7 linked regions of the Homo sapiens genome follow. The protein of the gene in region 6 purifies or fractionates together with the protein of the main gene of each other region. This does not show direct contact. Each region holds a gene or a part of one and is shown on either strand. Other genes may lie near its edges.

What was found.
Region 1: the proteins of HDAC7 (region 6) and MOCOS purify together in Homo sapiens (affinity purification with mass spectrometry; 3 studies listed by BioGRID and IntAct, with this or other methods). This does not show direct contact.
Region 2: the proteins of HDAC7 (region 6) and FLYWCH2 purify together in Homo sapiens (affinity purification with mass spectrometry; 3 studies listed by BioGRID and IntAct, with this or other methods). This does not show direct contact.
Region 3: the proteins of HDAC7 (region 6) and WDR73 purify together in Homo sapiens (affinity purification with mass spectrometry; 3 studies listed by BioGRID and IntAct, with this or other methods). This does not show direct contact.
Region 4: the proteins of HDAC7 (region 6) and TTF2 purify together in Homo sapiens (affinity purification with mass spectrometry; 3 studies listed by BioGRID and IntAct, with this or other methods). This does not show direct contact.
Region 5: the proteins of HDAC7 (region 6) and ZMYM6 purify together in Homo sapiens (affinity purification with mass spectrometry; 3 studies listed by BioGRID and IntAct, with this or other methods). This does not show direct contact.
Region 7: the proteins of HDAC7 (region 6) and DCAF10 purify together in Homo sapiens (affinity purification with mass spectrometry; 3 studies listed by BioGRID and IntAct, with this or other methods). This does not show direct contact.

Annotation. Positions count from the first base shown.
Region 1 is NC_000018.10:36,190,497-36,193,996, forward strand, and holds part of MOCOS (molybdenum cofactor sulfurase), read left to right. Parts: intron 1-625; exon of another isoform or gene 626-707; intron 708-2,970; exon of another isoform or gene 2,971-3,500. UniProt on the Homo sapiens protein: Sulfurates the molybdenum cofactor. Sulfation of molybdenum is essential for xanthine dehydrogenase (XDH) and aldehyde oxidase (ADO) enzymes in which molybdenum cofactor is liganded by 1 oxygen and 1 sulfur atom in active form.
Region 2 is NC_000016.10:2,893,215-2,896,539, forward strand, and holds part of FLYWCH2 (FLYWCH family member 2), read left to right. Parts: intron 1-2,005; 5' UTR 2,006-2,106; intron 2,107-3,137; 5' UTR 3,138-3,235; coding exon 3,236-3,325.
Region 3 is NC_000015.10:84,638,785-84,641,534, reverse strand, and holds the end of WDR73 (integrator complex assembly factor WDR73), read left to right. Parts: 3' UTR 1-2,250; downstream 2,251-2,750. UniProt on the Homo sapiens protein: Component of a multiprotein complex required for the assembly of the RNA endonuclease module of the integrator complex. Associates with INTS9 and INTS11 in the cytoplasm, stabilizing the INTS9-INTS11 heterodimer and blocking the active site of INTS11.
Region 4 is NC_000001.11:117,073,826-117,077,325, forward strand, and holds part of TTF2 (transcription termination factor 2), read left to right. Parts: intron 1-1,044; coding exon 1,045-2,034; intron 2,035-2,354; coding exon 2,355-2,469; intron 2,470-2,815; coding exon 2,816-2,998; intron 2,999-3,500. UniProt on the Homo sapiens protein: DsDNA-dependent ATPase which acts as a transcription termination factor by coupling ATP hydrolysis with removal of RNA polymerase II from the DNA template. May contribute to mitotic transcription repression. May also be involved in pre-mRNA splicing.
Region 5 is NC_000001.11:35,018,446-35,021,945, forward strand, and holds part of ZMYM6 (zinc finger MYM-type protein 6), read right to left. Parts: intron 2,023-3,500; coding exon 1,938-2,022; intron 1,158-1,937; coding exon 908-1,157; intron 1-907. UniProt on the Homo sapiens protein: Plays a role in the regulation of cell morphology and cytoskeletal organization.
Region 6 is NC_000012.12:47,795,904-47,799,403, forward strand, and holds part of HDAC7 (histone deacetylase 7), read right to left. Parts: intron 3,070-3,500; coding exon 2,882-3,069; intron 2,750-2,881; coding exon 2,659-2,749; intron 2,317-2,658; coding exon 2,205-2,316; intron 1,639-2,204; coding exon of another isoform or gene 1,597-1,638; coding exon 1,481-1,596; intron 1,240-1,480; coding exon 1,114-1,239; intron 396-1,113; coding exon 304-395; intron 114-303; coding exon 3-113; intron 1-2. UniProt on the Homo sapiens protein: Responsible for the deacetylation of lysine residues on the N-terminal part of the core histones (H2A, H2B, H3 and H4).
Region 7 is NC_000009.12:37,807,297-37,810,796, reverse strand, and holds part of DCAF10 (DDB1- and CUL4-associated factor 10), read right to left. Parts: intron 1-3,500. UniProt on the Homo sapiens protein: May function as a substrate receptor for CUL4-DDB1 E3 ubiquitin-protein ligase complex.

The sequences.
Region 1 (3,500 bases), on a different chromosome or scaffold from region 6:
CCTAGCACTTGGGAGGCTGAGGTGGGCAGATCACTTGAGCCCAGGAGTTCAAGACCAGCCTGGGCAACATGGTGAAACCCCGTCTCTACAAAATATACAAAAATTAGGCAGGCATGGTAGCTCATGCCTAAAGTCCCAGCTACTGTGGAGGCTGAGGTGGGAGAATTGCTTGAGCCTGGAAAGTCAGAGCTGCAGTGAGCTGAGATTGCACCACTTCACTCCAGTCTGGGCAACAGAGTGAGACCCTGTCTCAAAAAAAACAAAAAAACAAAACAAAACAAAAAAACTTTCTTTGGCCAGGTGCAGTGGCTCATACCTGTAATCCCAGCACTTTGGGAGGCCAGCCTGGCCAACATGGCAAAACCCAGTCTCTACTAAAAATATAAAAAAATTAGCCCGGTGTGGTGGCACATGCCTGTAATCCCAGCTATTTGGGAGGCTGAACCTGGGAGGTGGAGGTTGCAGTGAGCCAAGATTGAGCCCCTGCACTCTAGCCTGGGTGGCAGAGCAAGACCCTATCTCTCAAAAAAAAAAAGAAAAAGAAAAAAAAGTGTGTAGCACCTGCCCCTTCACAAGCACCTTCTCTCTCTCTGTCTCTCTCTGTCTCTCCTGTCACCATATGAAGATGTGCTTGCTTCGCTTTCCACCAAGATTGTAAAGTTTCCTGAGGCCTCCCCAGCCATGACTCCTATACAGCCTGTGCAACTGTGAGTCAATTAAACCTCTTTTCTTTATAAACTACCCAGTCTCAGGTAGTTCTTTATAGCAATGTGAGAATGGACTGATACAACATTTAGTGGTATCAGATTCAAAAGTTGCCAAAGGAGGGTGAAGAATCACCAGGGAGCCTCCCTCTCACGCCAGCTGCAGCCACTGTGTCTACCTCAGAGTCAATTGCTGTCACTCATGTCTTGTGTATCTTTCCAGTGGTTGTCCATATTTATGTGTGCATGTGCACACTTTTTGAGACGGGGACTTGCTCTGTCACCCAGGCTGGAATGCAGTGGCATGATCATAGCTCACTGCCGCCTTGACCTCTTGGGCTTAAGCTATCCTCTTGCCTCAGCCTCCCAAGTAGCTGGGACTACAGGTGTGCACCACCATGCCTGGCTATTTATTTCTATAGAGATGGGGTCTCACATGTTGCTTATGCTGGTCTCAAATTCCTGGCCTCAAGCAATCCTGCCTTGGCCTCCCAAAATCCTGGGATTATAGATATGAGTCACTGTGTCCAGTACACTTAAAATACGTGTGCACACACACACACACACACATGTGAGCCATATGTCTCACCACTTGACATAGTTTGTGTTTAAGGTCTTTCTCTGCCATTATCATGCTATCTTCTATTTTGTTCATTGCTGTGTCTCCAGCACTTAGAACAATGCCTGACACATAGTAGGTGCTCAATAAATATTTCTTGAATGCAAATACACTCAATAAACTAGGAATGAAGGAAAAGTTAACCAACTGATAAAGGTCATCTGCAAAACCCCCCACAGCTAACATCATACTTAGTGGTGAAAGACTGAAAACTTTCATCCTGAGTTTGAAACAAGACAAAAGTGCCTGTTCTCACCATTTCTATTCAACATTGTACTGAAGGCTCTAGCCAGGGCAATTAGGCAAGAAAACAAAATAGAAGGGATCCAGATTGGAAAGAAGTAAAACTATCTCTACTTGCCAATAATGTAATTTTGTGTATAAAAAATTTCAAGGAATCCACACACAAAACTATTGGAATTTAAAAACAAATTTAGCCAAGTGGTAGGATACAAGATCAATATGCAAACATCAGTTCAATTTCTATACATTGGCAATAGATACTATGAAAATGAAATTAGAAAAACAATTCCGAAGGCATCAAAAATAATAAAATACACAGAAAAAAATTTATCAAAAGAAGTATCACATACACTGAAAATTGTAAAACATCATTGAAAGAAATTAAAGAAGACCTAAATAAATGGAAAGATATCCTGTACTGATGGGTTGGAAGACTTAATATTGTTAACATGGCAATAATCCCCAAATTAATATACAGATTCAATGAAATGCCTATCAAAATCCCAGCTGCCTTTTTGCAGAAGTTGACAAGCTGATTCTAAAATTTATATAGAAATGCAAGTGACTCAGAATAGCCAAAGCAATCGTTTTATTTTATTTTTTGAGTCAGAGTCTCACTCTGTCACAAAGACTGGAGTACAGTGGTGCAATCTCAGCTCACTGCAATCTCCACCTCCCAGGCTCAAGTGATTATCCTGCCTCAGCCTCCCAAGTAGCTGGGATTACAGGCGCACGCCATTACCGCCTGGCTAATTTTTGTATTTGTAGTAGAGATGGGGTTTCACCATGTTGGCCAGGCTGGTCTTGAACTCCTGACCTCAGATGATCCACTCACCTCAGCTTCCCCAAGTGCTGAGATTACAGTGTGTGCCACCACACCTGACCTCAAAGCAATCTTGAAAAAGAAGATCAAAGTTAGAGGAATCACACTTTGCAGTTTCAAAACTTACTACAAAGTTACAGAATGGGCCGGGCGCGGTGGCTCACGCCTGTAATCCCAGCACTTTGGGAGGCTGAGGCGGGTGGATCATGAGGTCAGGAGATCGAGACCATCCTGGCTAACAAGGCGAAACCCCGTCTCTACTAAAAATACAAAAAATTAGCCGGGCGCGGTGGCGGGCGCCTGTAGTCCCAGCTACTCGGGAGGCTGAGGCAGGAGAATGGTGTGAACCCGGGAAGCGGAGCTTGCAGTGAGCCGAGATTGCGCCACTGCAGTCCGCAGTCCGGCCTGGGCGACAGAGCGAGACTCCGTCTCAAAAAAAAAAAAAAAAAAAAAAAAAAAAAAAAAAAAAAGTTACAGAATGAGGACAGTGTGATATTGGCATAAGTATACACATATAGACAAATGAAATATAATTTTAATTTAATAAACCCATATGTCTATGGTCAATTGATTTTCAACAGATACCAAGACTATTCAACGAGGGAAATAACTTCTTCAATAAGTGATATTGGGACAACTGGATATCAACATGCAAAAGAACGAACTTGGACCCCTACCTCATTCTGCATTCAAAAATTAACTCAATGGATCAAATACCTAAATATGAAACAGCTAAAAGTATAATATTCTTAGAGTAATATATAAGCATAAATCACTAGGACCTTGTTGAATTAGACAATAATTTCTTATGACACCAAAAATGCAACAACATAAATAGACAAATTGGATTTTATCAAACTTAAAAAGAACTTGTATGTTTCAATGAACACCATCAAGAAAGTGAAAGGACAACCCACCAAATGAGAGAAAACACATCCACACAAAAACTTGTACACCAGTATTCATACCAGCAATCATTTATAATACACAAAAGTGGAAACAATCCAAATATTCCTCAGTAGATGAATGGATAAAATGTGGTATATTCATACAATGGAATACTATTCTGCCATAACAGGAATGAAGTTCTGATACATGCTAAAATGTGGAC
Region 2 (3,325 bases), on a different chromosome or scaffold from region 6:
TCAACTTAACCTTCAGGCCCTCTCCCTTTCCTGGAGTTTGGAGGAGGGGCTGAAAGTCCCAACCCTCTAACCCTGCCTTGGTCTTTCTGGTGACCAGCCCCATTGAAGCAGCCCAGGGGCTGCCAGCCATCAGTCAGTGCCTAAGCATACAAAAAGACATCATTTTGGAGATTCCAGGAATTTTAGGAATTATGTACTGGGAGAGAGGGTCAAACACCAAATATATATTTCACAATATGAAAGAGCCCAATTTACGTATTTCACGATTCCCTTCTTGTTACAGCTTAACGAGATTTTTTTATTTTCCTGACTTTTCGCTTTGGAGAATTAGTCAATAGTTTAGGTCTGTCTTGTTCGTTTAATATGGGGTTTGAATTTGAGATGGGGCTGACGTCACTTTGGGGCCCTTTTCTTTTCTTCTTTTTTTTTTTTTTTTTTTTTGAAACGGATTCTCGCTCTGTCGCCCAGGCTGGAGTGCAGTGGCACGATCTCGGCTCACTGCAAGCTCCGCCTCCCAGGTTCACGCCATTCTCCTGCCTCAGCCTCCCGAGTAGCTGGGATTACGGGCGCCCGCCACCACGCCGGGCTAATTTTTTGTATTTTTTAGTGGAGACGGGGTTTCAACATGTTAGCCAGGATGGTCTCGATCTCCTGACCTTGTGATCCGCCCGCCTCGGCCTCCCAAAGTGCTGGGATTACAAGCGTGAGCCACCGCGCCCGGCCCCTTTGGGGCCCTTTTGTACAGCTCAGAGTTGGCCTGGCTGCAGGGCTGGGACTATGGAATGGCAAGGAGGTGCCTCAGGTGCCAAATATTAGGTTGGTGAAAATTAATTGCGGTTTTGTCATTGAAAGCAATGGCAAAACCGCAATTACTTTTGCACTAACCTAATATAAGGAGGCGTGCAGTCTGGGGGTCAGAGTGAGTGTGGAGGTCTCGGAGAATGGCTGCTGGCCTGGAGGAGGCTGCTAGGTCTGGGTCCCTGCCAGCCTTGTGGGGACCAACTGCTGTATCTTGCAGGAATTTGCACGCTGGGTATGCAAGAGGCTTCATCTTTTTTGGAGTCTGGGAGCGCTGCAGTGGCAGAACCGACACGGCGGGAGGCGCTAGAGGACCCGGGGTGGACTCGGACGTGGGGTCAGGGAACCTGGCATTTATTCCTGCCCGGACTGCCCACTCATGCTGCGGAGTGTGGGAGGCGTGGGGAGATCGGCCGCCAGAGGGACGTGCGCCGTAGCCAATCAGCGTGTGAAGCAGGGCGCTATGTGGTTGGGGCCTCCCGTAACTCTTTACGGCCCCAGAGTGGCCCCCAGGTCCCCGGCATCCCCACATCGCCCTGTGAGGCAGATGAGCAGAGCCGGAAGGGCCGCACGGGAGGAACAGGGGTTGGCTTGTCCGGAGGCGGACGGATAACGCGACCCCGATCCCTGCGGTACTCTGCAGTCATGTGACTCGCCGCCTGGCGCATTTCTTCAAGTGCCCACCCCCTCGAGAAGGTGCCCCTGGGGTGGGGGCTTCACATCTGCTTTTGTTTAGTGGTCAGAGGACTACAGAGGGAAGCTCTCAGGACAAGGCCCCCAACCCTGTACTCCAGTCCTGCATCCTTAGGCCCCTCTCATGGACAATAGGGTCTTAGAAAAAGCGCCAGGGTGCTGGGCATGGACCCCTCAGGACAGACGCATTGGGAGGGGTCCAAGGAAACCATGAGAACCTCAAGCCCAGGTTGGGGAATCGGCCCGAGGGGAAAGTGGGTGTCTCTGGGCCTTGTCCTGCCTGGGTCCTGGACAGGGGGCTAGGTGGCTGCCCAAGCTGCAGTCTTGTGTCTAGGCTAAAACTGTAAGCTGGGAAAGACCCCATGGTCTGCCCACCACCCAGTTGACCCCCAAAAGACAGAAAGGCCACCCCACACTGGCCTGGAGCCCCAGTCCTGAGGTGCTGCAGCACCAGTGTGGGGTGGCCCGGCACTTGCCCCTACAGGGTTACAACCCATCCTTTCTGCTTCTCCAGGCCAGAAGCCAAGGAGTCCTCAGTGACGGTGGGATCCACAACATCTCCACATCGCTGTCCCCACCCAGCCAGGGCAGCGCCAGCACTAGCTCAGACGCAAGGTTGGTGTGAGAACCAGTGGGTGTGGCCAGGCGCGGTGGCTCACGCTTGTAATCCCAGCACTTTGGGAGGCTGAGGCGGGCAGATCACGAGGTCAGGAGATCGAGACCACGGTGAAACCCCGTCTCTACTAAAAATACAAAAAATTAGCCGGGCGTGGTGGCGGGCGCCTGTAGTCCCAGCTACTCGGAGAGGTTGAGGCAGGAGAATGGCATGAACCCGGGAGGCGGAGCTTGCAGTGAGCCAAGATCGTGCCACTGCACTCCAGCCTGGGCGACAGAGCGAGACTCCGTCTCCAAAACAAACAAACAAAAAGAACCAACGAGCAGAGGAGCATGTGGGCCTTCAGACGGGGATGTGGCTGGATCTGGTTGTCCCACCTGCCAGGGCCAGCTGCAGTGCTATGGTCTGCAAAGTGCTGGCAGGTGCCTGGCCCATGCTCCCTGTGACAACACAAACTGAGCTAATGTCCCCAGAGTGTTTAGCTCTGATGCTTGGTGCCCAGGGACACTGATGTCTGTTAACATGGACAAAGTACACCAGATGCTGTGTGGTCATGGGCTCTGTGTCCACTCCATCTCTGCCACTCTGTGGCCGTGTGGATCACCCTGGCATGTCTCAGTGTCCTCAACTGTGACTGGGTCCATAAGAACAGCCTGCTGTCATAACAGGGGTGGGAGGTGGGACTGGAAACAGTCCTCAGGGTGGAAACCCTTCGTCCGTGCTCAGCATGTGGGAGGCCCATTGGTAGTGGCTGAGTTCTTAGTCCATTAGTCATTCTGATGGCCCCTTGTGGAGGGTGTTTACTGTGCACCTTTTCCAGATGGGGAAAGTGGGGTTGGATGGGGCTGACGTTCCCAAGGCTGCCAGGAGAGGAACTGGCAGAGCAGAAGCCTAGTTCCATCAGGCCCCCTGTCAGTCTTGGCCCCAGCGAGCAGTGAGGCAGCCCCATCTGCCCCACCTCCCTCCCAGATCCACGTCTAGAGCCTCCCAAGGGCTTCCACCACTGACGGGATTTTGCTTCCTTCCTTAGGACGGAACCGCTGGACTCCAGGTTCCTTGCCTGGGAGTAGGAGAAATCCACCTGCTGGGGGCTGAGTGTGGCCTGAGGGACAGGCCCTGGGTCCCGGGATGCCCCTGCCCGAGCCCAGCGAGCAGGAGGGTGAGAGTGTGAAGGCCAGCCAGGAGCCATCCCCCAAGCCAGGCACAGAAGTCATCCCG
Region 3 (2,750 bases), on a different chromosome or scaffold from region 6:
CTCAAAAAAAATAAAATAAAGATAAAATCATAAACACTCATAATTCAGTTATACCTTTTTTCAAGTAACTAAAGTTCAAACTTACTTAGGGGAACAGGCTTTCCTGGGTGCCACCTGCTTCTCAAGTCCTGTGCTTTCCACACCACAGAATAGTAAACTGGGTGCACTGAGTGCCTGGTTCCCCTCAGCCCTTAACCAGTGCTGGCTTGTCCGAGTTTAGAATCCCAGGGCTGACTTTGTTGGTGGAATGCTAGCTCCCATTCATTTCCCACCTGCACTGGACGTTTTCTGAATCTCCTTGAAGTCCGGGAGATCTTCATTCCAAAGCTCTTCACTTTTCTGCAGCATTGTGACCCCATCTGGCTGGGGAACTGGAAGTCCTGCTCAGAGAAAAGCAGGAGGGGACATGGAGTTCTGAAATTCACTTTCTGCTCCCATGTCTGGAAGTGACAGGTGAAATGAGAATGATAGTGCCTCTCAAGAAGGTCTAGTTCCCAGAAGAGAAAGTTTAATGACTCATTTTCCCCCTTTTACTCCTTTGAGGGTACAGGATAATGCCCTTATCTATTTTCATAATAATTATAATGATGATGATAATGAAAACTAACGTTTGCCAAGTGCTAATACTGTGTCAGGATCCTCATAACAGCCCAGGGAGGTAGAAACCATCACAATGTCCACTGTCCAGATGAGAAAATGGAGGCTAAGGGTATTTAAAGAGGTTGCCCAAGAACAACAAACCTTTTAAATGGCAGACTGGTGTGTATAATCTACGCAGGGTTCACATCTATGGAACACTTTATTTTAAATTCTTTTAATAATATTATTATTTTTCAGCTGAGTCTGGGTCTCACTCTGTCGCCCAGGCTGGAATGCAGTGGCATGATCACAGCTCACTGCGGCCTCCAACTCCTGGGCTCAAGTGATTCTCCTGCCCCAGCCTCCCGAGTAGCTGGGACTACAGGCTTGCGCCACCATGCCCGGCTTATAGGGCACTTTAGATGGAAACAAATGACTGGATCTTTAACTCCTACCTTTCTCTCCTCTCTTCCTGTAATGTTGTTACTGAAGGCAGGAAGGGAGACTCCTTGGCTAAAGAGCAGAGCAAGAGCCTCAAAGTGGTCTTTGTGAGCCACCCTGGACTACTGGTTCAGTAGAGGGTTGAGTCAAGCAATATTTGAGGACGGGATATAAACAGTATTTCTTAAAGTTGTCACCAATTTTTCCCCCGATGAGGCCATTCCAGACCCAAATTAGTCATAACAGAGCCAGGACAATAATCACATCTCCTGATTCTGAGCCTGAATGCTTCCCACAGGACTGCGTCGCTCCCACTGCTCTGAGGTCCATTGTGGGGGAGAGTTGCCACTGGGATTCCACCTCAAGGCCTGGGGACCAAGCCTCCAGGATTCCTCTTGAGACTCCTCCACTATTTCATTACCATCCCGCCACATCTTCTAGTGCTATGCCCTGGTTCCCTTTGGAATCCTCTCAATCCCAAAGAAGGCCTCCTACCACCTCTAAGGCATCAAAGGTGTTAGAAAGTGCCCCAAGACTCAACAGGGCATCCATCTCATCATAGAAGACACTGGTGCCTGGTGTGTAGGTGCTCCTGGCTTTGCAGTAGTCGGTCAGGAGGTTTTTGAACCGATAGCAACATTGCTCCAGGGTCCACAGGAAGCCATGTTCTCACAGCTGCTCAGCCATAATCCGGTACACCTGGTGGTTTCGATGGCAGGTGCGGAGTTTTTCGTGGATCCAGGCCTCTGAGAATTCCCAGAAAAATCTTGGTTTCTTTGTATCCCCAGTGCACTCCTGCCACCTTCTCATCCTCCAGGGCCTGCCACTCCAGCTCGCTCCAGGTCTTGGCTTTTCTCCAGATTAGCACCTGGCCAGACTTGACTCTCACCCCAGCCACTGAGCAGTCTTTCACACTCTCTTTTTCTCCAGAATTTGAAGATCTAGATGCTGTGGGTTTTCATCCTACTCCACGTGGGAGTTCACTTTGGGCCTATGGATTGGAAAATCTGTTTGCAGGCAGACAAAAGGGAGATGTAATGGTTTGGTAAATCTAATCCCAACCATTTTATATGCCAGGGAGAGGAGATAGTAATTTTTTTTTTTTAATTCTGGGGGGATTCTTGGGAAAGCTCAGTGAAAAGAACAACTAGAAAAAAAAATTCAGGCCCAAATGCATAACTATATATCCACGTTCATCTATCTTAAATAAAATTCAGACACATACCTAAACTGACCATCTCCCTAAAATGAGCTTTCCTTTCTGGGTCAAGAAATTCATCCTTGGTGAAACTGACTATGGTATTGGATTTCCTTTGAGTAAGATTTAAGGAAGAAATAGATTTGAAATATTCAACCCAGGGGGAAAGGGTGGGAGCAGGGGGGTGAGGGATAAAAGACTACACACTGGGTACAGACTGAGGGGATAAAAGACTGCACACTGGGGCCCCGTGGTGGCTCAGGCCTGTAATCCCAGCACTTTGGGAGGCCGAGGCAGGCAGATTACTTAAGGTCAGGAGTTCAAGACCAGCCTGGCCAACATGGTGAAACCCCATCTCTGCCAAAAAAAAAAAAAAAAAATACAAAAATTAGCTGGGCGTGGTGGCACATCTCTGTAATCCCAGCGACTCAGGAGGCTGAGGCAGGAGAATCACTTGAACCCGGGAGGCAGATGTTGCAGTGAGTCAAGATCATACCACTCCACTCCAGCCTGGGTGATAGAATGAGACTCA
Region 4 (3,500 bases), on a different chromosome or scaffold from region 6:
TTCATCAGACTGTCTCCGAAAGATAGTTTTCTTTAAGCAAGGTAGGCCCTGTTGGGACTTTTATTCAAAGGATCATTTAGTCGTAATCAAGATTAATTATTTGCATCCTATTTCACTTAGTAAATATTTTTTGAGGTCTTAAATGTAGTCAGTATTCTTTTACTCAAGGAAAAAAATAGATTTCCTTGACTAACTCTTGTATCTTTTTATAGAGGAATTTCTACTTGATACTGGTATAAGCTAAGTATAAGCATAAGCTCCTAGTATGTTAGAACTAGGAGGAGCATCTCCTAATAGGAGAAGCCCTACAGATATTCAGTACGTGAGGAACTAGAAGTAGGGAGGTGATAAGACTTGTTTTGGCAGAGGTGTGGCTTGAACTTACGATTCTAGATTACCACAGTAAAATCCTCCTAAAGCCAAAATCAAAGCAAGTGTTTTAAGACAATGTTTAGGTTTGGGGAAAAGTTCATCTTAAGAGAATAGTTTTTTTCCTGAAAAGTATACACTGTGGCCATTGTGATTGTAAAAGCACTTTGGTTTGTCACTACTTTTCCTTGAGGCCTGGAAAAGAGTGATCATGGACAGAGAAGGAACCAAGCTTCGAAAGTATCGTGAAGAAATGAGTCCTTTGTGGGTTTGGCACGTCATCTTTTCTAGACGTGGAAATGGTACCAAGAATGTTCAGGAAATATTGGACTGCTTTTACTGTGTTTCCATTTCTTCTGCAGAATAATCCTAAGTGAATTAATGCAGGAACAGAAAACCAAATATCATATGTTCTCACGAGCAGGAGCTAAACATTGAGCACCCATAAACATGGGAACAATAGATACTGTGAACTACTGGAGAGGGGAGGAGGGCATGGGTTAAGAAACTATCTATTGGGCACTATGCTCACTGCCTGAGTGCAATATACTCATATAACAAAGCTGCATATGTACCCCCTGTATATAAAATAAAAGTTGAGATGAAAAGGAAAGGCATTCTAGATACGAAGTTTGTATTAATATTTTATATGAAGATTAATTATTTTGTCTTTAGGATCCTGATTCCAAAGAACATTCTGTATCCAATAAGTCTCAGCATGCATCTGAGACATTTCATCATTCTTCCAACTGGCTGAGAAATCCATTCAAGGTACTTGACAAGAATCAAGAACCAGCTCTCTGGAAACAGCTCATCAAAGGTGAAGGTGAGGAAAAGAAGGCTGATAAGAAGCAAAGAGAAAAGGGAGATCAGCTTTTCGATCAAAAGAAAGAACAGAAGCCTGAAATGATGGAGAAAGACCTCTCATCTGGCCTGGTACCAAAGAAAAAACAATCTGTAGTTCAAGAGAAGAAGCAAGAAGAGGGAGCAGAGATTCAGTGTGAGGCAGAGACTGGAGGCACACACAAAAGAGACTTTTCTGAAATTAAATCTCAACAGTGCCAAGGTAATGAGCTTACAAGACCATCTGCATCTTCTCAGGAGAAATCAAGTGGTAAGAGTCAAGATGTCCAAAGAGAATCAGAACCTCTGAGAGAAAAGGTTACCCAGCTTTTGCCTCAAAATGTTCACAGTCACAACTCAATAAGCAAGCCCCAGAAAGGGGGACCCCTCAACAAGGAGTACACGAACTGGGAGGCTAAAGAAACAAAGGCAAAGGATGGCCCTAGCATACAGGCCACCCAGAAAAGCCTGCCTCAGGGGCATTTCCAAGAGCGGCCGGAGACCCACAGTGTGCCTGCTCCTGGAGGACCAGCGGCTCAGGCTGCACCAGCAGCACCAGGGCTTTCCCTGGGTGAGGGCCGTGAAGCTGCCACAAGCAGTGACGACGAGGAGGAAGATGATGTTGTTTTTGTTTCCTCTAAGCCTGGGAGCCCCCTACTCTTTGACTCGACTCTGGACTTAGAGACGAAGGAAAACCTCCAATTCCCTGATCGAAGTGTGCAAAGAAAGGTGTCTCCTGCCTCAGGTGTTTCCAAGAAGGTAGAACCCTCAGACCCAGTAGCCCGGCGTGTCTACCTTACAACACAACTGAAACAAAAGAAGGTAACTATTGACTCGTGTTTTGTTTCTGAGGTCAGAGCATTGCTTGTTATGGGCAGATATGAGATCTCATTGCTACAGAAGGGTTAAATATGTTCATGTGAAGGTTTTATAGGTGCATGTTCAGTTTCTGCCTTTTCCCCTATTTATATTTTCAAGATTGGTAAGCCAGCTGGGTTAAAATTTAAAAAAGGTTCTGGTTTTTGCACACATATTTAAAAGACCATAATTTCAGAGTTTGGGTGTTTCAGGCTATTTTAATCTGAAACTATTCATCTAACAGTGTGAGAGGAGAGATCCATTTGATGGAATCTGTTTTTCAGAGCACACTGGCATCAGTGAACATCCAGGCTCTTCCAGACAAGGGTCAGAAGTTGATCAAACAAATCCAGGAGCTGGAGGAAGTACTCAGTGGTCTTACCCTTTCCCCAGAGCAAGGTAAAGTGGCTTATGCCTCAGAACTCCGGGTTTGCATCGACTTTACAAGAGACATTCGGGAAGCCCTTTTAATAAAGAATGTGTTGATTCATTCACTTTTCCATTTTATTATCTGCTTCTGAGACTTCTTTCACATTACACCTATGGTTCATAAAAAACTTTCTCCTGTTTCCTGTGGACTCTACTTTCTTCCCCATTGTTTAAGCAACTGTTAAAATGCTACCTTCTCTAGGAATCCTTCATCGGAATGGTGATGATCCCTCTCTCTTGACCTCACCTCCACACATATGGTCCCTTCACTTAGTTTGCTGAACTTTAATCTGCTCTTCCCTTGTTTTCTGAGCAGGAACTAATGAGAAGAGTAACAGTCAAGTACCACAGCAGAGTCACTTCACCAAAACTACCACTGGCCCTCCCCACCTGGTGCCTCCCCAACCCCTTCCTCGTCGTGGTACCCAACCTGTGGGTTCTCTAGAACTAAAGTCTGCCTGCCAGGTGACTGCTGGAGGATCCAGTCAGTGCTATCGAGGTAAGACCCAAGGGCCTGACCCTGCTGTGAATAGCCACCCCTGTGAGTTACGTGCCACCCGGTACAGTAGTCACCTCTTATCCACACTTTCAGTTAACCTTAGTCACCTGTGGTTCAAAAAAAGGTGAGTACAGTACAGTAAGATATTTTGAGAGAGAAAGAGACAGAAACCACATTCACATAACTTTTATTACAGTATATTCTTATAATTCTTCTATTTTATTATTATTGTTAAATGCTTTCTGTCCCTAATGTATTAAAGTTTAAAATAGGTATGTACGTATGGGGAAAAAAAAAAGCCAAAACATAGTATGTGTAGGGTTCAGTACCATCCAGTTTCAAGCATCCACTGGGGGTCTTGCAACATACGCCCTGTGGATAAGGAGGGACTACCGTAGATGTCTTTGTGCCCACATGAGGGGAGAAGCCATTCTTAAGTCAGAAGTTGCCCATATAATAAAGATTGTGCAGCTCAGTAGAGCTTTGCATCGTGTTACTTAGC
Region 5 (3,500 bases), on a different chromosome or scaffold from region 6:
GATATGTTAAGTATACATAGTAATATGTATTATATACACATATATTTATTATATTTATTTATGTTAATTATAAATAATCGCACGATATAATTTTTATTATTAATAATAACAGGATTCCATTTTTTAAGTACTTGCTATGTGCTAGGCCATTTGCTAACACTGTCTCATTAAAGTCCTAGGAAGCAACTATTATTTACTGATGAGAAATGGAGGCTTAGAAAGTTAAACATCTAGCCCGAAGTCACAGAGATAAATGACAGAGCCACAATTTAAAAGCAAGCTCTTACTGTTTTTTGCCTGTAGTGACTATTAACAACACACTGTATTCCTCAAATTACACTACCACAGAAATAGGCAAAATATGCCAAATCCTTCAAATGTACTAAGTCAGGGAAAGATTTATGTGACTTTGTTGCTGTTTTTTCCTCTCTCTGCATCTAAGCATTATTGTAAAGCAACAATGACCCCACAAGGACATTAGAAATAAACACATTTTTGCGACCATGTAGAGTTTTTACTTTTTAAAGAATTAAATAGCTTTTGTATACTATTAAAAGAGTGATATTATTTTATGCTATACCCAATAGCTTTCAAGATAACTGTTAAATAAATTTAAATGGTGGGTGTCTACAATTACAGGATAGTCCTGCAATTCCCACATGTCATTTGTTATTTCTTTCCATAGTAAAATTTAAAGTGATAGAAAACTGGTTTAGGCAATATTCTAACACCAAGTCACTTATTTAATGTTGCAAAACTTTAAAATTGGTGAATTCTTCCATTAACTAAAAAGTTATTTCTACAGATACATGCTGAAGAGATTTAAAGTATCAACAGTATGTTTGAACTAAACAATATACACACTAAAAAAAAGGTAAAGTAAAAAGGGATGTTAAGAATTTTATACTTCGAGCAGTTTGTGCAGGTTTTCTTGGGAGGAGGTGGCAGGCAGGCAGGTGAAGAATGTCTGGTGATGCATCGTGTGGAGCAGAAGAGCTGAGTAGATCCTGTCTTATGATATGCAGTTTGGCCCTTATAAAGCATTTTTTTACAACCAGAACAAAAAACCTTAATAGCAACAGCTGGAACTGAAGGAAGCAACACACTTGGGCCAGATGATGCAAAAGAAAGCTGAAAGCCTGGGTTCAACTGCTGGGCTATCAAAACAAAATAAAAAAAGTTTTAGTATCAATACTAATGCATATACAGTCTCAGTCTCTCTCTCTCTCTCTCTTTTTTCTTTTTCTGAGACACGGTCTCACTGTCACCCAGGCTGGAGTGCAGTGGTGCAATCAAGGCTCACTGAAGCCTCAAACTCCCAGGATTAACCAGTCCTCCCGCCTCAGCCTCTTGAGTAGCTAGGACTACAGGCACATGCCACCACACCCAGCTAATTTTTTTTTAATTTTTAGCAAAGATAAGGTATGTTGCCCAGACTGGTCTCAAACACCTGAGCTCAAGCGATCCTCCTGCCTCAGCCTCCCAAGTTGCTGAGATTACAGGTGTTAGCCACTAAACCCAGCCCAGTCTCTCTTTTTCAGGACAAATTCCCAATCTTGAAATCCAGTTAATGAGGCAATAAGAGCTCTAAAACAGAGGTTTCAATTTTTTTTTAACCATTACTCAACGCAAGAAATACATTTAATATTATAACCCAGTTCTCACATACATATGTTTGTAAACGTGGGGATGTATGTACAATTTAATCACTGAAACAGAAGTTTTATGAAACAATATGTTTCCTTACTACACATATCATATTCTGATATAATCTTACTCTATTTTTTAAAACGCTGCTGAAAACCAGCTACTCACAGTTTGAAAAAACACAGCTCTAAAGAAAGAGAAAGACATACATGAAAAGATGCTTTCCCTCAATTTTAAAAGTCAGAATAAGCAAATTAATTGTAACTAACTTATACAGTTCCATTTCTTACCAATAGGTCTCTCATTAACTGAAGACACACCACCAATTTTCAATTTACTTTCTTGAGTTTTTGGCTGTTGGACACATCCATACTCCTTTAAAAAAAAAAAGAAAAGAGAAAAGAGCAATGAATACAATGTATGTAAGTAAACTAGAAATTCAAGCAAAAAAAAATTATTCTATCCTATTCATCTCCTTTTTTTTTTTTTTTTTTTTTTGAGATGGAGTCTCACTTGGGTGCCCAGGCTGAAGTGCAGTGGCGCGATCTCAGCTCGTTGCAACCTCTGCCTCCCAGGTTCAAGCGATTCTTCTGCCTCAGCCACCCGAGTAGCTGGGACTACAGGTATGTGCTACCACACCCAACTATTTTTTGTATTTTTAGTAGAGACAGGGTTTCACCACATTGGCCAGGCTGGTCTCGAACTCCTGACCTTGTGATCTACCCACCTCAGCCTCCCAAAGTGCTGGGATTACAGGCGTGAGCCACCACACCCGGCCCTATTCATCTCTTAAACAGTCTAATCATAAATACCTTCACAAGCACCTCAAAAGTCAAAATTTACAAGTTATTACACTAATCTTTACAAAGACAATCTTTCAGAATTAGAGAATCTTTTAAAATACTTTTATCTACTTTTCAAATGAAATTTTGATATATGGGAGTAATACATAGCTATTCCAAATGCTGAGCACTACCTATTTTTTAGGTAGTGTGTTTAAAAGGGGGTAATAAATGAAAAAAAAAATTTTTTTTTTTTTTTGACATGGAGTCTCATTCTGTCACCCAGGCTGGAGTTTCATTCTGTCACCCAGGCTGGAGTGCAATGGCGTGATCTTGGCTTACTGCAACCTCCAACACCCAGGTTCAAGCGATTCTCCTGCCTCAGCCTCCCAAGTAGCTGGGAATACAGGCTTGCGCTACCACACCCGGCGAATTTTTGTGTTTTTTTCCAGTAGAGAAGGGGTTTTGCTATGTTAGCCAGGCTGGTCTGGAACTCCTGACCTCAGGTGATCCGCCCACTTTGGCCTCCCAAAGTGCTGGGATTACAGGTGTGAGCCACTGCACCCGGCAAAAAGGAGCAATAAATGAAATTAAATCTGGCTGGGCGTGGTGGCTCACACCTATAGTCCCAGCTACCCAGGAGGCTGAGGCAGGAGAATCACTTGAACCCGGGAGGAGGAGGCTGCAGTAAGCCAAGATTGTGCCACTGCACTCCAGCCTGGGCAACAGAGCGAGCCTCTGCCTCAAAAAAAAAAAGAAAAAGAAAAAAAGAAAAGTTAAATCTGAATGATTTAGAGTTTGGATTTCAATCATTTTAGATTTACAAGCTGCCTTTTCTGTTAATGGCAGAAAAGATACAAGAGTGTCAATGCAATCTGCTCATTATACATAAAATCATCACAGACAAAATCCTATTTATTCTTACCACATTCTTTAAAACGTTTTAAAACAAAATGTAATCATGAAACATTTTTAAAATGTAAATGCCTATCTTTATTCTGAAATTGCAACCATCCTTTTTTTTAATGTTAAAATACCCTTACATATTTCAAAACAGGAAGTTTTTTAAAA
Region 6 (3,500 bases):
ACCCTGGCAGGGGCGGGCAGCCCCAGAGTGATTGCGGGCAGCAAGGACACTGTCGGCAAGGCGAACGGGGCCACAGAAGTCTCCTGCAGCCGCAGCCGCTGGCCCAAGAGCGCCTGCCATAGGGAGCAGGGCGAGGGTCACCGGTCCCAGACCTCTACCCCGGCGCACCTTCCCCAGAACACCCAGGAGGCTCTGGCAGGGGCTGCCCAGACCCTGCAGCCCCAGCCCAGGTAGGGCCGCCTGCTGGAAGAAGGCTGAGCCTCAGAACTGCCCCAGGAGAGCCCAGTCTCGGCAAGGCCTTACCTCCGAGCCCAGGATGGGATTGGGGCCGTGCTCGCTGTCATTGGGGGAGCTGCACCCTGATGCGGGCGTGCTGCTACTACTTGGGGAGGAGTCTGAGGGTTGGGGAGAGAGGGAAGTGCAGTCAGAGGCCAGGGTGGGCAGGAGGGTACAGCCAGGCCGCCTGGTGCAGGAGACCCGGGAGCACCCCCTTCCTTAACGAGCACCTTTGCTTCCTGCTTTCTTTTTTTTTTTTTTTGAGACAGAGTCTTGCTCTGTTGCCCAGGCTGGAGTGCAATGGCACGATCCCGGCTCACTGCAACCTCCACCTCCTGGGTTCAAGCGATTCTCCTGGCTCAGCCTCCCAAGTAGCTGGGACTACAGGCATGCACCACCGTGCCTGGCTAATTTTTGTATTTTTAGTAGAGACAGGGTTTCACCATATTGTCCAGGCTGGTCTCAAACTCCTAACCTCAGGTGATTGACCTGCCTCAGCCTCCCAAAGTGCTGAGATTATAGGCGTGAACCACCGCGCCCGGCCTCCTGCTTTCTTCCCATCAGAGCAGGAAGAAGACAGGCCACCTTTGGCCTACAGCACCTTTGCATAATTTTTTGAAGGGTGCCCCCTTTTCTGGGAGATGTCACCTTAGCTAACAGAGCAGGGACTGGGTTTCAGCCCCAACTCCCCCGCTTCGGCAAGTGTGTGGGACACCCCCATGCAACCACGCATGGCAGTCCTAAGGAGGGGACCCCTGTCTAGGTGGGGCCTGACCCAAAGGGACAAGACCAGCCAGGTTTGAGGATGGCAACCGCACTGGCTCAGCCGGCCCTCACCTCCGAGGGTCTCTGCGGGCCGCCGCCGGAGGCTGGGGGGCGCACTCTCCTTTCGGAGCAGTGGATTCTTCCTCCGCTCCAGGGACTTCTTGGGCTTATAGCGCAGCTTCAGGTTGGGCTCAGAGACTGCAGGGAGCACCAGCGTCACTCAGGCCCCCACCACCCTTCTTTTTTCCACCCTTTAACCCCTCAGTCCCAGTCATCTCTATCGGTCAAGGAAAGAGAAGGCAGAACTAGAAAGAAGATCCTAGCCTACCGATGATCTCCTGGCCCAGCCCAGCCCGCCCACCCCTGCACACTCCTCCCCCATGTCCGAGGCCCTTCCCCCTTCCTTTGCCTGAAAGGTCCGCCTGTTTGTTCAGCTCACCTGTCTTGCGCAGAGGGAAGTGCTCTGGGGGGTCACTGGGCAGGCTGGGAACAGGAGGCAAAAAGCTGCTGAGCATGGAGCGGGTGGCTCCTTCCGTCTCCAGGGGCTCCAGGGTTCTACAGAACGAGTGCCAAGGCTGCTTCAGAGGTGTGGGGACACTGCACGGGCACTGCCCTGAGCACGGGCCCTGGGACCTGAGGGGGAGGCTGCAGCGGGCAGGGCTGGGCAATGTGGGGCTGGTAGGAATGGGGACCATCTCCAGGTGGCAGCAGTGGGCCGCCTGTCCGCTCCAGCAGCTATAGTGCAGAGCTCTGACCTAGGCATAGAAGCCAGGTGCTTGGTGCGTGGGTGAAGAGCCCACTGGGGGCTCTGTCACCTGCACTAGGAACCTGCTCTGGGAACCAGGACATTTTTGCGCTCAGGGAAAATATAAAGAGAGAAGGGGCTCATGTGCAAGAAAAAAGCCAGTAGGGTGTGTGTGTGTGTGTGTGTGTGTGTGTGTGTGTGTGTGTGAGAAGGGCTCAGGTGGGGTGGGGAGAATTTAAAGAGAGGAGGGCAGGTATCAGTTGAGAGAGGGGCTCGGGGGCATTATGTTTAGAGGAAGGGTAAGGACTGGTTGTGGCAACTGGGGAGGAAGGAGGCAAGTGTGTGTGCTCATGGCTAACACGGGGGCGGGGGTGGAGGGTGCATGTGGGGACAGGAGGGCAGGTGAGGAGGGTGTTACCTGTAGGGAATGCCGGGGCTGTTGGGATGGACTGTTCTTTCTAGGGCCGCCTGCTGTTTTTTCAGAATCACCTCCGCTAGCTTCTGCTTGACCACGCTGCTGGCTACAGCACCTGTAGGGGCAGAGTCAGGAGGGGGCTGGAGGTGGGTGGACAGGCGGCCTCGTGGCACTACCTGGCCACTGCCCTGTCCCCATCCTCAGTAGGAGGCGTCCCAGGGACTCCCTAGGCAAGAGCCAAGCCCGAGGCCCTACCCCTCCCTAGAGCCTCCAGACACCACCCCCCACCCCCACATCCCCCACACATTCACAGGCAGAGCCCAGGCAAGCAGAGGGAAAGCCTCGGCTCAGGCCCAGCTGGCTGCGGCCCTCCCACCTCACCCCTCACAAGCCACACAGGCAGCCGCAGGCACCTGGCTGGTGGGGCTGGGCTGGGCTGGGGTGGCCACCTCCTTACTTCGCTTGCTCTTGTCCTTGTGGAGAAGCTGCCGCAGCTCTTGTTCCTGGGGTCCCACCTGCAACTCGGGCATCGGCGTGTCCATGGAGAGCTGTGGGCAGGGCCGGCAGCCCAGAAAGGGACAAGGAGTTGAGGACTGAGACTGGTGTCTAGGGATGCTGAAGGCGGGGAGGCTGGGGACCAAGCTCAAGGTGGCCCCACATGCAGGGAGCTCCATCTTTACCCTCATGGGCTCCACCGAGCGCTGCTGCTGCAGGCCTGCTAGGAAGAGGTGGTGGTGCAGGCGCTGGGGACGCTGCAGGGCCAGCAATGTGGGCTCTGGTGGGGGCTCCACTGGGGGCCGCTGGCCCACCCGCAGGTCCATGGGCTGCGGCTGAGGGCCTGGTGTGTCTGCACAGGGCCTGGGGCAGCCTAGGGACAGAGAGAGGGAGCAGGGTAAACTGGAAAGTTTGTCCTCGGGGGCATGATACAGCCTGATCCCCCCTCAGCCTCCCTCAGGCTCACTTGACAATGGCAAAACACTCTCATGGGGGTTTTTCCTCACTTAATCCTGTCGTGGTCCTGCAAGGTAGGTATTATCAATTCCATTTTACTCGTGAGAAAAAAGTCACATGAACTGTGCACAGTAACACTGTATCACTGGTGGTGTTTGAACGGAGTCTTCCGACTCCACCACAGTGCTCCTCCACTAAACATGCTCCTCCCTGGGCCGGGGGCTGAGGGCTACAGTGATCTCCGATGGGCTGCAGATCCTATGGTAGGACATTCTTGGCCCTGCCTTCTCCCTCCCTTCATCCCTCCCTGGAATCAGAGGATTTGCCCAGCTGCCCTCTAATGAGTTG
Region 7 (3,500 bases), on a different chromosome or scaffold from region 6:
TCCCACCCATGAGTCCATTAGAAATACCATTCAGAGGCCAGGCGCAGTGGCTCAAGCCTGTAATCCCAGCACTTTGGGAGGCCGAGGCAGACAGATCACCTGAGGTCAGGAGGTCGAGACCAGCCTGACCAACATGGAGAAAGCCCGTTTCTACTAAAAATACAAAAATTAGCCGGGCGTGGTGGCAGGCGCCTATAATCCTAGCTAATCCAGAGACTGAGGCAGGAGAATCGCTTGAACCCGGGAGGCAGAGGTTGCAATGAGCCAAGATTGCGCCATTGCGCTCCAGCCTGGGCAACAACAGTGAATGAAACTCTGTCTCAAAAAAAAAAAGAAAGAAAGAAAGAAAGAAATACCATTCAGCCTCATTGCTGCTGCTGCTTTTGAGATTGACAGATGTCTCTCAGAGAAGCGAGCTCAAATGCTGGGCTCACATCACTGGCTTTCCTATTTTTTAGAACTTGACCCTGCAATTTCTTCATTTCCCTGATAATGCTCTAATCCCCTCACACATAAGCTTTCTATATCTTACATTAAATATTTAATATTTTCTCTAGCTTTTCTGATTATTCTCAGTTGGAAGTTTGGTCCAAACAATCTACCTCTTGCATATAAAATTGTCCCCCCAACTTTTTTTTTTTTTTAAGATGGAGTTTCGCTCTCGTTGCCCAGGCTGGAGTGCAGTGGCGCAATCTCAGCTCACTGCAACCTCCGCCTCCCAGGTTCAAGTGATTCTCCTGTCTCAGCCTCCTGAGTGGCTGGGATTACAGGCGTTTGCCACCATGCCCAGCTACTTTTTTGTATTTTTAGTAGAGATGGGGTTTCACCATGTTAGCCAGGCTGGTCTCAAACTCCTGACCTCAGGTGATCCAGCCGCCTTGGCCTCCCAAAATGCTGGGATTACAGGCGTGAGCCACCGCGCACGGCCGCCCCGCTCCCCCTAACCCTTTTATTTTTTTAATTTGAGACAGAGTTTCGCTCTTTTGCCCAGGCTGGAGTGAAGTGGCACAGTCTTGGCTCACTGCAACCTCCGCCCCTCGGGTTCAAGCGATTCTCCTGCCTCAGCCTCCGGAGTAGCCGGGATTATAGGCGCCCACCACCATGCCTGGCTAATTTTTTTATTTTGAGTAGAGTCAGGGCTTCGCCTGTTAGCCAGGCTGGTCTCGAACTCCTGACCTCAGGTGATCCACCCGCCTCGGCCTCCCAAAGTGCTAGGATTACAGGTGTGAGCCACTGTGCCGACCTATGTCCCTCTTTTTATTCTGAATATTATCTGTGCATTTTCTTAGTACCATGGATGTTTTTCATTTTTATAAGTGTTTTCAAAGACAAAACTTTGTCCCTATTCAGTATTTCTGATGGTTTTTAAAATTTCACTAATTTCTACCTTTTTTTTTTTTTTACTATATTTCCTTCTGCTCTCTTTAGATTGATTTTCCTATTATTTGCAGATAACTTTGCTATTCTCTTTCATGAGATGAATACTTAGCTCATTAATTTTCCTTATCAGTTTATTAAAGACTATAATTTTCCTACTAAGTACAGCTTTACTTGTATCCCACAAGTTTTGAGACATATGATTTCATTATCATTTAGTTCTGAACATTTCTAATTTCCATTATAATTTCCCCTTTGACCCATGAATTTATCAATTCTTTTTGAAAATGAATGAGACTTTTCTAGTTATCTTTTTTTTTTTTTTTCTTTGAGACAGAGTCTCATTCTGTCACCCAGGCTAGAATGCAGTGGCAACCTCAAACTCTGAAGCTCAAGCAGTCCTCCTGCCTCACCTTCCTGGGTAGCTAGGACCACAGGCACATGCCACCACACCAGGCTAATTTTTAAATTTTTGTAGACAGTCTTTCTTCCTTGCCCAGGCTGGTCTTGAACTCCTGCCAGATCCTCCCACCTCAGTTTTCCAAAGTGCTGGGATTACAAGTGTGACCCACTGTGCCAGGTCTCTGGTTATCTTTTTAATTATACTTGTCTCTTGACTTCCAAAAATATAAAATATATAATATATATTATATAAATATATATTTTATGTATGTATTTTTATATATTTTTATATATAAATTTTATATATAAATATAAATATATAAATATATATTTATATTTTATATTATATAATATATTTATATTTTATATTATATATTTTTATATTATATTATATAAATATATTATATTTTTATATTATATTATATAAATATATTTTATATTATATATTATGTATTATATATTTTATATATTACATATATTATATATTTATATAATATATTATATAAATATATGTTTTATATATTTATATATTATATAAATATATATTTTATATTATATATAATATACTTTTACATAATATAATATATATATTTTTCTTGAGACAGGGTCTCATTCTGTCGCCCAGGCTGTCGCCCAGGCTGGAGTGCAGTGGCGCGATTTTGGCTCACTGCAACCTCTGCTTCCGGGGTTCAAGTGATCCTCCCACCTCAGCCTCCTGAGTAGCTAGGACTATAGGCATGAGCCCCACAACTGGCTAATTTTTGTATTTTTTGTAAGGATGGTCTGGAACTCCCAGGCTCAAGTGATCCACCTGCCTCAGCCTCCCAAAGTGTTGGGATCACAGGTATGAACCACCATGCCAGCTAGTTATCTTTTTATTTACTTCTAGTGATCACATTGTGGTGAGAAACTGTATTCGGTATGATACCAATCTTTTGAAACTTGTGGTCTCATATGTGAAAATTTTATAACTGTTCCTTGTGTGTTTGAAAAATATAAGGATGAAGCGGCTGTTACATACAGTTAAGTGTGATATTCAAAGAGGTTAAAAATTCAGGCCAGGCACAGTGGTTCACACTTATAATCCCAGCTCTTTGGGAGGCTGAGGTGGGTGGATCACCTGAGGTCAGGAGTTCAAGACCAGCCTGACTAACATGGTGAAACCTCATCTCTACTAAAAATACAAAATTAGCCGAGCGTGGTGGTGCATGCCTGTAATCCCGGCTACTTGGGAGGCTGAGGCAGGAGAATTGCTTGAACCTGGGAGCTGGAGGTTGCATTCAGGCAAGATCGCGCCATTGCAGTCCAGCCTGGACAACAAGAGTGAAACTCTGTCTCAAAAAAAAAAAAAAAAAAAAAGAAAAGAAAAGAAAATTCAGTGGTAATATAAATTAACATAAATAAAATTTAAAAACATTTTCTAAATAAATTAACCTATATAGATTATAAAAATGCTCACCAGGTGATAACCATTGTAGCTCAAATTGTTCATTAAATCATTCTAGTAATTTTCAATCATTTATTAATTTTTGGAAATTGTAGCCATAATCTTTTATTTGACACAGATGCCCTTGTCTGAACCATGAATTGACATAGGAAACTAGATAAAGCCCTTCTAAGAATGTCCACATTAAATTTATAGTCATTAAATAACTTGTAGTCATGATACGTTAAAAAAAATCACACTTTTTAAAATTTTTTGTAGAGACAAGGTCTCCCTA